2 linked regions of the Homo sapiens genome follow. The protein of the gene in region 1 purifies or fractionates together with the protein of each later gene. This does not show direct contact. Each region holds a gene or a part of one and is shown on either strand. Other genes may lie near its edges.

What was found.
Region 2: the proteins of PARP14 (region 1) and DTX3L purify together in Homo sapiens (affinity purification with western blotting; 2 studies listed by BioGRID). This does not show direct contact.

What each region holds. Positions count from the first base shown.
Region 1 is NC_000003.12:122,725,802-122,731,438, reverse strand, and holds the end of PARP14 (protein mono-ADP-ribosyltransferase PARP14), read right to left. Parts: intron 3,628-5,637; coding exon 3,453-3,627; intron 3,132-3,452; coding exon 2,842-3,131; 3' UTR 599-2,841; downstream 1-598. UniProt on the Homo sapiens protein: ADP-ribosyltransferase that mediates mono-ADP-ribosylation of glutamate residues on target proteins. In contrast to PARP1 and PARP2, it is not able to mediate poly-ADP-ribosylation.
Region 2 is NC_000003.12:122,560,084-122,567,472, forward strand, and holds the start of DTX3L (E3 ubiquitin-protein ligase DTX3L), read left to right. Parts: upstream 1-4,254; 5' UTR 4,255-4,343; coding exon 4,344-4,530; exon of another isoform or gene 4,531-4,701; intron 4,702-5,775; coding exon 5,776-5,987; intron 5,988-7,389.

The sequences.
Region 1 (5,637 bases):
AATGTTTTAGTTTCTTTTAAAACCAGGAACAAAATATATAATCCAGCCTCAACTTCATTTGTGTTCATGTCAATGCAGTTGCAAATTATATTTAATTTTTTTATGCAATAAAGGGCCCACAATGGCAAAAGTGCCTGAGGCCCATGAACATTTTAAGGTGGCTCTGGGTGTTAGAGATATCAGAATTATTTGAGGTGCTTGCCCAAAATGCAGATTCTTGGGAACCACTTTAGTGCTATAGAATCTGACTCCTTTGGGATGAGGCCAGAGCTTGGAGTTTCAGCAAACACCTCAGGTGATCCAAATACCAAAAAAGAGAATTTCTGACCCTAGAGTAAACGATCAAGACCTATCACAGGTGCAAAGTGGACTTGTTTCAGCCGGGGCTACTTGCTGGGGTCAATAAGCCCTTCAGATTCACTGAACTATGGCTGTATCGTGCCCCTTCCTGTAATTTTCAACCAAATATTAATACACTGAGCATCCCTTCATGCTGTCATACTTAGTTGTTTTTTAATTATTATTATCAGCAGTGGTCTGTGTTTATCATTAAGCCCCCCTGTATTTGCCCTTTAGGATAAAAATGTTTACCATTAAATGACAGTTTTCAAGTATTTTATTTGAAAAGTAGCAAAATGACAGTTGACATATTTAGATTGAGGATAACTATAACATTACTGAATGGATTATTATTCTTCAGTGCGATACACTCTGATATTCAGCCTTGCCCTGAGTTAATCAAATCACTGGAGAACAAAAGCGAATAACAGCAGGTCTCTCTTTTTTATTCCAATTTCTTACATTTATTGTCAATGATGAATTCAGATGCCAGTGGCCTGCCTAGAAAGCCACTCTTAAGCAACAAGGAGTCTGCCAATCCACTTAAAAAACAAACCACAAGAGAAAAAAATCCAAAACCTCTATGTTAATGAAGCAGCAACTGTGGCCCCCTAGCCTCCTCCACTTCAAGTACAGGTGTTCCTAGCAGATTAAGTCCCTTAATCCTCCCAGCGACCCCTAGCATCTGATGTGCTATCTGCATTGGCTCCGTGTCAGTATCAGCTCTGGCCTTGGCCTACAGAGCTTCCAATGAAGAGACTGTAATAGAAGAAGCCAGAAGGAAAAAACAAACAAGGCAACATGGGGGTATTTCAAGACTGTCGGAGGTGTTCCTGAATCGGTGGCATTAATCTAGAGGCCATGTTCTGCAGTGGGAGAGCAATGGGCTTGACATCACAGGGACCAAGATTCAGTTGCCGGCTCTGAGGGTTCCTTTCTAGGTGATCTCAGGCAAGGAAGCTTCTTGCACTCTGAGCATGTTTCCTCAAGTTTCAAATGCAGAGATAATTCTGACCTCACAGGAATTGAGACAATGTGTATGAAAGCACCTATTTTACTACCTGGCACACAATGTAGGTGCTCAATAGATGGTGTTTGAATCTTAAACTTACCTGGGGAAATTTTTAAAACTTCACCATTCAATAGATAGGAGTTAGCAAATTAGCAATATGACTGCTTACTTCCTTTGGTTTATTTATACATAAGGCTTTAAAATCATCAAACGCTAGGCTGTCAAGGAAAATATACTATTTAATAATCTTAGAGTTCATTTAATCTCAGCACAGGGGAAGGGTTTCACAATGAAGATGTGTAGCAGGCGTTATCCCATTGTTATCACTGGGCAGAACAAAGACCAATGAGTAGACACTATAAGAAGGCACATTGGCTGGTCACGGTGGCTCACACCTGTAATCCCAGCAGTTTGGGAGGCTGAGGTGGGAGTTCGAGACCAGCCTGTCGAACATGGAGAAACCTCGTCTCTACTAAAAATACAAAATTAGCTGGGTGTGTTAGCGCATGCCTGTAATCCCAGCTACTCGGGAGGCTGAGGCAGGAGAATCACTTGAACCTGGGAGGCAGTGGCTGCAGTGAGCTGAGATCGCGCCATTGCACTCCAGCCTGGGCAACAAGAGTGAAACTCCATCTCAAAAAAAAAAAAAAAAAGGCACATTTTGGTTCAGCATTAAAAAGAGCCTTCTGGCAATTGGAGCCAGGGTTGTGCTGCGCAACTCCATGGGGCAGGCAGGATTCCCCTAGACCACAGCCACATCACAGCTCCTGGACCGTGCAGAGCGCAAGTACACTGCAGTCCCAGAGCCCTGGCCAGAGCTGTCCCACATGTCACTGGCTAGTTTGTGAAGAATGAAGTTCCGTCATGGAATCTGTTCAATTTGAGGTAAAGTGATAGTGAGTCAAGAATGTTAAAGAGATAGTTCCTACTTTGGATGGGAGTCTGACTAGGCTTTTTTTCATTCTTCGTTGGTTTGTCAAACATTTATGGAGTATCCGTTGTACATCAGGCACAGACCTCATCTCAAGGGAAAAAAATTGACTAAGATACCATCCCTGCTCCCAGGGAAGACAGAAGCCCTACCCACTGGGTAATACTGTGCTCCCCACAGCACTATGGCATCCTGACATGGGGCCTGTCTCCTGCAGTGGCAGCTGTGCTTAGCTGTGCCCTCTGTCTATAAGACTGTTATTCTCTCCTTCCTGAAAATACAAACCTGTTCTTTTCCCACAGATTTGATGTCCATACTTGTGGACACACAGTTGCAACTGCATTATCTCATTTAAATTTTCCAAGTTATTTGCTCTCAAGATAATAAGTTCATTTCCATTATGAAAGGGAAGCTGAAGAAAGACTGACTTCAGCGACAAAGAATGATCCTTGGATATTAGAAAAATCTGTTAAGAGGAATTAAAAAAAAAAGCTAAAACTTGTTTTACAACTAGATATGTACAAATGGAGAATAATTTTGTGGGAAGGATACCAAAGTGTTATTTTCTAAACGTAATAAGGTACTCTGGGTATGCTTGGTAGTCATAAAATGCCACAAATAAACTTGGATGGTGCACATTATCTGTGACAGTGTCATACAGGTCAGTAGGATTTTGAGGGTTCTTTGAAGGAGGCACAATTAATGAATGATTTCCATGTGTATAGATTCCAGTAAGTACTCGCACATAATACACATGCTTTCTCCCATTTGCATCTGGTCTGGAGTACGTATCATTGGCAGAATAATTGGCATTGACAGCAAAATAGGTTCCCTTTCCATATGCCACAGCTGTGAAAAGAAAAACCATTTTTAAGCATTTCAAGTTAATGTAAAATTTGATATGTTGGCCCAATCTGTTAAATAATGTTCTTTCTAAAGCCTCTCTTAAAATTTTTTGTGTGTGCTTTTCACTTTTAATCATCAATTTTTCTACCTAGAAGGGCCAGTCAATCCCCTTTGGGATGAAATACAGTGAGTCCTACCCTGAAACTCGGGCTGCAACATGGCCACCAATGATGGGGGACCACAATGAATCCACACTGTCCCAGCCAACTCGGGCTCTCATGGCTGATGCCTCATTCCAAGCAGCCAGATTACTCGCTTCCTTACCATTCTTTCCGGCATAGCTGCGGTTAAAGCCATTTCGATTGACGTGTGGCACGGAGCCGGCATCTGTCCCATGGAAGAGTTGCTTCTCATTCATTGTCTGGCCATTCTTGGCATCCATAGTTTTTTTCTTTGCCTGGTAGCTATTCCAGAGATCTGGATTCTGGATCCTCTCAATCTGCAAATTAATAAAGGATAATATTCTGCCAGTTCCAAGAGCACTTGCCAATATACAGCAAATGAAACATGATCACTATGTTTCATAAATAAAAGCACACTAAACAGCAAATCCAATGCCAGACGGCAGCTTTCTGCATTCAGAAACCTTTTTAGATCCAGTGTTTCATAAAAACAGGCAATGGGAAGAATGTTGGTTTAATTTTTAACATCTTTTATGTACCGCATGAGATCAAACAAGGTTTAGGATTTTAAGTACTCATGACATGAATTCTGCTGACCCAGCCTCTGCAACTTCTGCTTTTTACACATACTCTAATGACTGCTCCTGTTGCTGTCCACCTCACTTTGCACTTTGCCTCTCACCACCTCAGTCCTTCTGGGATACTGGTTGACCTAGTTGTGTACTAACAGTAAGAGAAGCAACAGAATATCTAGGCAAGAATGAAATTAACTAATGAAAATTAATCTCTGGTCCAGTTGGAAGACCGGTGCATGAATCTTGAATGTTGTAGACCAAAGTGGCCATGCTTTGACCATACTCTTTAGGCAGTGGCCTCCAGGGCGGTGGTGGAAACTGCTTGGGTCCTGGGTTGCAGTTCTACTTCTAAACTCCCCTAGTCCCCAAGTAGTAGCAGTTTCATAAGGCTGTCCTGGGAAGACCGAGGGGTGGGTAAAGGTGACCAAAGTCCCTCATGGAAATGCACAAGGTAAAGGTTCCCTGTTGTCCATGTTGTCAGAATGTTTTCCGTTTTGGAGAACTCTCAGGCTTAACACCATTACCTGCCATCATCTGGTTCTTTTTTTTTTTTTTTCCAGTTTTGGGTTTTCTCTTTTTAATTAAGATACAATTCGCACTCTAATTCAAAGTCTCGGCATTAACATATATTTTGTTGATCTGGTTGATGATTTTAAAATTATTTTTCCTTTGTATTCTTTACCTACGGCTAAATTTCTAATCTTCAAAATGCCTACATTCATTTCATTTACCTTACATTTTATCTTACTCATTTTTAAAGCCTTCAACATTTTTTGAGTTTTGAAATAATTCTCAATTTCTTAGTCTCTTAATTCTTAAATTTAAAAAGGTTGTTTCTTACCTTTTAAAATTTTTAAAAATAATTATGTCAAGTAATTTTTGAATATAGTAACCTGATTCTACATTTCTCATGGGATAAATTCTAAGGTAAAAAAAATTGCAAATAAATCTTAAACTTTATTTAGTAGGTTTATTATTAGCAGCAGATGTCTAGCCAGGGTAGATTACTTTTATCAGACCAACCTCTCACCAACAACTACTAGAAGAGCTAGAGAGGGAGAAAAGTCTATTTGAAGACATCAAGGATTTGATGAGCTAAGATTGCAGAGAGAAGGGAAGTATGGTGAAACAGTAAAATCAGAAGACAATAATTTCTTCAAAGTGCTGAAAGAAAATAATTGCCATCCAAACTTCTATGCCCAGCAAAAATATCCTTCAAAGAATGAAAGAGAAAGAGACGTTTTCAGATAAATAAAAACTGAGAGAATTCATCACTACCAGATCTGCATTGGAAGAAATACTAAATCTAGATGAAAAATTATCCCACATGGAAGCATGGAAATATAGGAAGAATTGAAGGACACTGGAAATAAATGGTAAATATGTTGGTACATATAAATAAATATAAACAAATTAAAAATGTTTCATCGGGTTTCAAATATAAATAGAATTAAAATGTGTGTTAAAAGCAACACAAAAAGCAGAAGAGAGATAAATAAGGCTTAAAGTATTCAAAGGTCTTTGCATTGTCTGGGGAATGATGAATATACTAATTTACATTACAGTTCAATAAGTCAAGGATGCATGTTATAATCTCTAGGGTAAGCAATGAAAGAATTAGAATGTATAACTAACAACATAATAGGGGTGAAAATGAAATAGAAATAATGCAAAAGAAACCAGGAAAAGATAAAAAAGAACAAAGAATAGATATGATAAATAGAAAACAGAGATTAATATGGTACATTTAAA
Region 2 (7,389 bases), 170 kb from region 1:
AGACCGAGCTTATGAGTGAGTGAAGCCCCCTGGAGAGCGTTTGAAGAAAGAGGAAATGCCACTAGAGCCTGTGAGGGGGGTGTATTATTGAATTTGTGATAAACATCCTTGACCTAATGATAGGGGTATATCTGGTTAAAAGTCAGAAAATCTGGGAAAAATACTTTGTTATGATTTTCCATCTAATAGGTAGGAATTAAAGATTATGAATTTTTAGAAGACTGATGATGAAAATGCTTAAAGATACAGTTGCCCACACTTGTTGCTATATTTAGGCCTCGAAATGATTTCTTTGTTTGTTTTTTTGTTTGTTTTTTTGTTTTTTGAGTTGGAGTCTCACTCTGTCCCCCAGGAATGCAGTGGCTCGATCTTGGCTCACTGCAAGCTCCGCCTCCTGGGTTCACGCCATTCTCCTGCCTCAGCCTCCTGAGTAGCTGGGACTACAGGCGCCCGCCACCACGCCCAGCTAATTTTTTGTATTTTTAGTAGAGATGAGGCTTCACCGTGTTAGCCAGCACGGTCTCAATCTCCTGACCTCGTGATCTACCCGTCTCGGCCTCCCAAAGTGCTGGGATTACAGGCGTGAGCGACCGCGCCTGGTCGAAATGATTTCTAATGTCTTTGCAATAGAAACATTTTGTACAACCATCTACAGCATCAGAGCACTATTCTTACTCATCAAGGGAAAGCAGCAGGTCTAGTACAATCCTTTGCATTCTAAAATGCAAAGACAAGATGCATTTTTTGCCTCCAGAGGGCACTGCTGTTTTCAAAAAAGAAGGATGACTTCATCTGCTTTGGCCATGGGCTTTTGCTTTAAATGTTGCACCTGTTTCTGTCTTCAGGCCAAGTTTTACAGGCCTATGGATAGCCAAACAAGGAGCATAGTGCCCTAAGCATTCCATTTCTTCCATTTTAAAAACAGAAAAGCCTTCCCAACTTTCCATCACTGGTTCCTACTGTGTTTCCTTCTCTTCATAAGCAGCCAAACTTCTGGAATGAGTAGTGGACTCTCCTTCTGTCCACCTGCCCACTCAGCCTACTATAACCTGGCTCCCTGCCTCATTCCCAGCACCCTTTTGAAACTGCCAGTGGCCAGGCATGGCGGCTCACACCTGTAACCACAGCACTTTGGGAGGCAGAGGCAGGCAGATTGCTTGAGCTCAGGAGTTCGAGACCAACCTGGGCAACATGGCAAGACCTCATCTCTACTAAAAATACAAAAAGTTAGCTGGCCATGTTGGTGCATGCCTATAGTCCCAGCTACTTGGGAGGCTGAGATGGGAGGATCACTTGGTGGGAAGTTCAGGCTGTAGTGAGCTGTGATTGTGCCACTGCACTCCAGCCTGGGCAAGAGGAATGAGACCCTGTCTCAAAAAAAAGAAGAGAAACTGCTCATCAGAATCCCTCATGTGGTTAATGCCAATGGATTATCTTCTATCCATCTTTACTGGACCACTTTCTATAGTATTTCACTCTTTGATTCCTGAAATTCTGCTTTCCTGGCTTCTCCTATGCCATCTTCCCTTGGTTCTTCTATTACCCTTCACTTTGCCTTTACAGGCCTTTTCCCTGCGTTCACTTCCACCATCTCCCTCTTAATTGTTTGCCCCAGGATTCTGTCTAAGGCGTTTTTCATCTCATTCTGCATACTCCCCAGGAGTGATCTCATCCATTTCCATGGCTTCAACTCACCAATTGCAAATATGACTCTTATATCTGCAGTTCTAGGCCATGGCTCTCCTGAGCCCCATTTTTCAACTCCACCTGGAGGTCTCACAGTCCCCTCAAATTAGCCTCTGCAAAAGTAGACCTCTTATCTCCTGGTCCCCAATCCTCCATCCCACCCCCACCAAATCCATACTTTATCTCCTGGATTCTACAGCTCAGTAAATGATAATACCATTTACGTACTCAAATCAGAAATCTAGGAACTTTCCCTGAGTCTTTTTTGTCTCATATCTGGGACCTGACAAACTAAATCACTTTCAAATATGCCCCTTCCTTCCTCGCCCACTGACACTGCCTCACTTCAGAGTCTCAGCAACTTTTGCCTGAGCTGTGGCAATATACTCTTTTCTTTTCTTTTCTTTTCTTTTCTTTTCTTTTCTTTTCTTTTCTTTTTGAGACGGAGTCTTACTCTGTCGCCCAGGCTGTGGCGCGATCTTGGCTCATTGGAAGCTCCGCCTCCCGGGTTCACGCCATTCTGCTGCCTCAGCCTCCCTAGTAGCTGGGACTACAGGCGCCCACCACCACGCCTGGCTAATTTTTTTTTTTTTTGTATTTTTTTTAGTAGAGACGGGGTTTCACCATGTTAGCCAGGATGGTCTCGATCTCCTGACCTCATGATCCGCCTGCCTTGGCCTCCCAAAGTGCTGGGATTACAGGCGTGAGCCACCGCGCCCAGCCATCAATATACTCTTTTCAAAGATTTAAATGTACCTAGTTTGACATTTTATTGTTTGAATAGGTATTACATTTACATGGTTCAAATTTAGAAAATGTAAAAGGTTTCCTCCTGTCTCCGCTGCTAAATTCCCTGTCCAGAGTCAATCAGCGCTTCTCCTGTATTCTTCCAGTGGCATTTTTTACACGAAAGGTAGTAGCTTATACACACACTTCTGCATCTTATTTTTCCCACATAATGTATCCTAGAGATCTTTTCATGTTAGCACATAGAGAGCTTTTTCATTTTTCCTACTGCCCATTGTATTCCATTGTATAGATATACTATTATTATTAAACTGCTAGTCCCCCTATTTATGGGCATTAAAGAGTTCCCTATCTTTTGCTATTGTAAACAAGGCTGTAAAGAACATCTTTGTACACAGGTCACTTCACACAGGGGCTAATATATCAATGGGACAAATTCCTAGAAATGGAACTCCAGAACCAAAAAGTATATGCAGTTGTAATTCTGACAGTATTGCCAAATTGTTCACAGTAAAGACGGGCCCATTTCCAGTCTTACCAGCCATGTGCAAAAACCTTATCTCAGGCCTCTCTGCCGCCACTCATCCCTGCTTGTAAATGTGTCCTCCACACGGTTGTCAGCACCATATTTCTAAAATGCAAATCTGGCAAGTCATTTTCTTGCTTTCCCTGCTTAAAGCCCTTCAGGTCATCTTCACTGCTCTTCAAGGCTTTTCACCATCTAAATATGTCCTGTCCAGGGTGGACTATCAGCCTCACATAGCTACTGAGGCTACATGTGGCCAGTCTGAATCGAGATGTGATGTAAGTATAAGAAAAACACTGGGTTGCAAAGACGTGGTATGATAAAAAGAATGTAAAAATCTCATTACATGCTGAAATGATTAAGTTTTGGATATGTCAAGCTAAATAACATCATTACAGTTAATTTCATCTGTTTCTTTATCCTTTAAAAATTTCCTAAAAATCATTAAAATTAATTTCATCTGTTTCTTTATCCTTTAAAAAATATGGCTGCAAAAATTTTAGAATGAACCTACTGGCTCCCATTGTATTTCTGCTGGACAGTGCCCATCTAGGTAGGCTCTCCCTCCTTCATCCCCTCACCCATCTCCTCTCCTCCCAGGCCCCAGGCCCACTCTGTGCTTCAGACCACAGTGGTCCCTAAGCCTCAGGTGCTTTTCCCCCCAATCCTGTCCTCCCCATCTCGCCGCCACACTCAATTTATTAAGATTCTGCTTGAAACTTCCCCTTGGAGGCCTTGGAGAAGTTTTGCTCCTTGGTTCACAGGTCCGCCTCCCCTCACCAGCCCTTGACATCAGGGCCTTGCTCTGCTCTTTGGGCAGCAAGAAACAATTCAGTGCTGTTGGTTAAATCAAGCAATGGAGGAGAAAAGCCCGCAGAAGCCCGTCTAAAGGGTAGAGTTGGAGGGAGGGAAGGGGTAACAGGTCACAATTACCAGATGAACACATTCAAATTTTCAAAAATGGGTAAGTTTAACATGGATTCAGAATGTGAATTACTTTTTAGGATCAAATAATAGTGGTAACAGCAGTAAGAGTTACAAAGAATAAGAAACACAGGAGAAACTTACTTTCTTTGCATAGTCTACTCACAAGGGAGGCCTGGCCCTGGGACCCGGGTCCGCGCCCGTCCCCCTTCTCCCCGCCCACCTCGAGCCTGCAGGAGAGGGGACCCCGAGGGCCCAGAGGCACCGGACCTACTCACCCGGCAGGCCGCTCTCCTCGGTGCAGACAGCACAGGGAGGAGGGGGAAGCGGCTCTGCCGGGAACAGGGAGGGACCTCCAGGGAAGCGAAACTGAAACTTTGCGCCCAGTCCGCAGGGCGGGCCGCGCCTTTACCGCCCAGCTGCCTCCCGGAGCCCCCGCGCCCTCCCGACGCGCAGAGCCATGGCCTCCCACCTGCGCCCGCCGTCCCCGCTCCTCGTGCGGGTGTACAAGTCCGGCCCCCGAGTACGAAGGAAGCTGGAGAGCTACTTCCAGAGCTCTAAGTCCTCGGGCGGCGGGGAGTGCACGGTCAGCACCCAGGAACACGAAGCCCCGGGCACCTTCCGGGTGGAGTTCAGTGAAAGGGCAGGTGAGCTTCGGGCGGCCAGGCTGCGAAAGCCCTCTGGGGGCCCGGCCCCCGGGTTTCCAGGCGGACCCAGTTCCAGCTGACCTAGGGGAGAGGGCGGGAGAAAGTATGTCACTGTGCGGTGGCGGACAGGGACGGGGCCCTACTGCCAAGAGACTCACTGAGACAGTGAACACTCGGTGGAGGATGGGGCCTCACATGTGCCTGGTGCGGGTCTGGCTGACGGCGCCTTAGTGTGGATGCTTTCCATATCCTCATTCTAACTTAATTTCTCAGCTGTCATCTTCCTTCCCCCAGATGCCTGCCAGCTGCTGTCCTTGTCATTCAGGGATTCCACTTTTATGTTTTAAATAATGGTTCCATTGTTCCATCCATGAACAAAAGGATGTTCCATTTTGTGTTTTTGAGGATTACAAAAGTGATATATGCTCACTATAGAAATAAAAGAGTAAAAAAGAAAACAACCTGAAGATAAACAATGTGACCATTTGGTGTATTTCCTTCCTGCCTTTTTTTATGAATGCCAGCAAACACATGTATATTTACAAAATTCGGAGTCTGCACTTTTGATTCCTGCTGTTGTCACTTACCTGTATAATGAGTATTGAAATGGGAGACTGGGCCGGGTGCGGTGGCTCACGCCTGTAATCCTAGCACTTTGGAGGCCGAGGTTGGTGGATCACCTGAGGCCAGGAGTTCGAGACCAGCCTGGCCAACATGGGGAAATTCCGTCTCTACTAATAATACAAAAATTACCCGGGCATGGTGGTGCGCACCTGTAATCCAAGCTACTCTGGAGGCTGAGGCAGGAGAATCGCTGGAACTCGGGAGGCAGAGAGGTTGCAGTGAGACGAGGTCCTACCATTGCACTCCAGCCTGGGTGACAGAGTGAGACTCCGTCTAAAAAAAAAAAAAAAAAAAAAAAGAAGGAAGGAAGGGAGGGAGGGAGGGAAAGAAGGAAGAAGGAAAGGGGAGACTGGAGACAGTTTTAGAAACATGATGTTTAATCGGTGGACAATGTTCCATTGTCATTAAGCTTTCACTTCTATAGTAAAACTTAATCCGCACACTTTAGAGCTCTTAATAGCTCCCCGACTTTCTCCATCGCCAACCCACCATTCCAGGATGCAGGGAGCAGCCTTACTGGGAGGTGCTGGGGCAGAGTACAGACACAGGAATGAGAGGATTACTTGAAATCTCTCCCATTTTTATGTGTGTATATGTGTGTGTTTAATGTCTCCACTGAAGCTAAGGAGAGAGTGTTGAAAAAAGGAGAGCACCAAATACTTGTTGACGAAAAACCTGTGCCCATTTTCCTGGTACCCACTGAAAATTCAATAAAGAAGAACACGAGACCTCAAATTTCTTCACTGACACAATCACAAGCAGAAACACCGTCTGGTGATATGCATCAACATGAAGGACATATTCCTAATGCTGTGGATTCCTGTCTCCAAAAGGTGAGTATTGAAAGAAGGAGCTGGCTGTGCCTGCGCCTCCTCTCCAGTCACCAGCCTCATGTATTATTGATCCAACACCCATGTGCTGGGCACGTACATGGGAGCCAGGCACTGTTTTAGGCACTGGACACAGAGATGAATATAACAGACAAGGCCCCTGCTCTCAGGCAGCTTATACTGGGGGCCAGGTCATGCACAGAAAGACAGTAGGCAAGTAAACAAAATAAATAAAACCATTTTATTTATTTGGAGAGAAACAGCGCCAGGGCAAGCAAGGGGAAGATGGGGGTGGTGTTACTTCTTTTTTTCCCCCCAAGACAGAGTCTCACTTTATCGCCCAGGCTGGAGTACAGTGGCACAATCATGGCTCACTGCAGAGTTGACCTCCTGGGCTCAAGGGATCCTCTCACCTCAGTCTCCTGAGTAGCTAGGACTATAGGCGCCACTACACCCAGCCAATTTTTTTTTTTTTTGTAGAAACAGAGTCTCACTATGTTGCCCAGGCTGTTCTCAAATTCCTGGGCTCAAGCGATCTGCCCGCCTTGGCCTCCCAAAGTGCTGGGATTACAGTCATGAATTACTGCACCTGGCCTGGTGCTACTTCTAACCAGAAATCAGAGACAACTTGACTGAGGAGGTGATGTTTGGCCTGAAACTTGAATGATGACAAGATTCATTCAACAATAGATATCCACTGCCTACTGTGTTCCAGGCACTGTTATAGGAGCTGGGGAGGCAGCCAGGAACATGGCAGACTCGGCTTCCAGGGACGGCACCTTCTAGAGAGAGAAACAGACAATATTAGTAAACAATAGATATATAATAAAATGTCTGCCAGTCATACCTGCTAGGAAGAAGAATAAGTGACAGACAGTGACAGAACCACCATTTAAAATAGGATGTCTGGAAAAACCTCAAGTGAGGTGACATCTCTAGCCAAGTGGATTTCTGGGCGGAAAGTGTCCTAGAGGGAAGCATAGGTGCAAAGTCCCCAAGAGCTGACATTTTGAGGCCCAGAAGCTTTAAGGAAGCCAGTGTGGTGGGGAGGGCAGTGAGCAATGGAGAGAGGTGCTAGGAACTCGGGAAGGTACCCAGAAGACAGGCCTTTGGGGCTGAAGGTAAGGATTTTGGATTTTTAACTTAAAATGTTAGGGGATTCATCAGATAGTTTTGAGCCAGGGGAGAGGGCGATCTGGTTTATATTTCTAAAGGGTCACTCTGGCTGCTGTTGGAAAACTGAACGTAGAAAGGGGATAGAATGGAGAGTTAGAGCCTGGTTAGGAGGGGTTGCAGTGCGCCAGGTGAAAGATGATAATGGCATGCACTTTGGTGGCCTTGATGGAGGTGTGAGAAATGGCTGGATTCAGGAAACATTTTGAAGATCTAGAGGAAGGATCTTAAC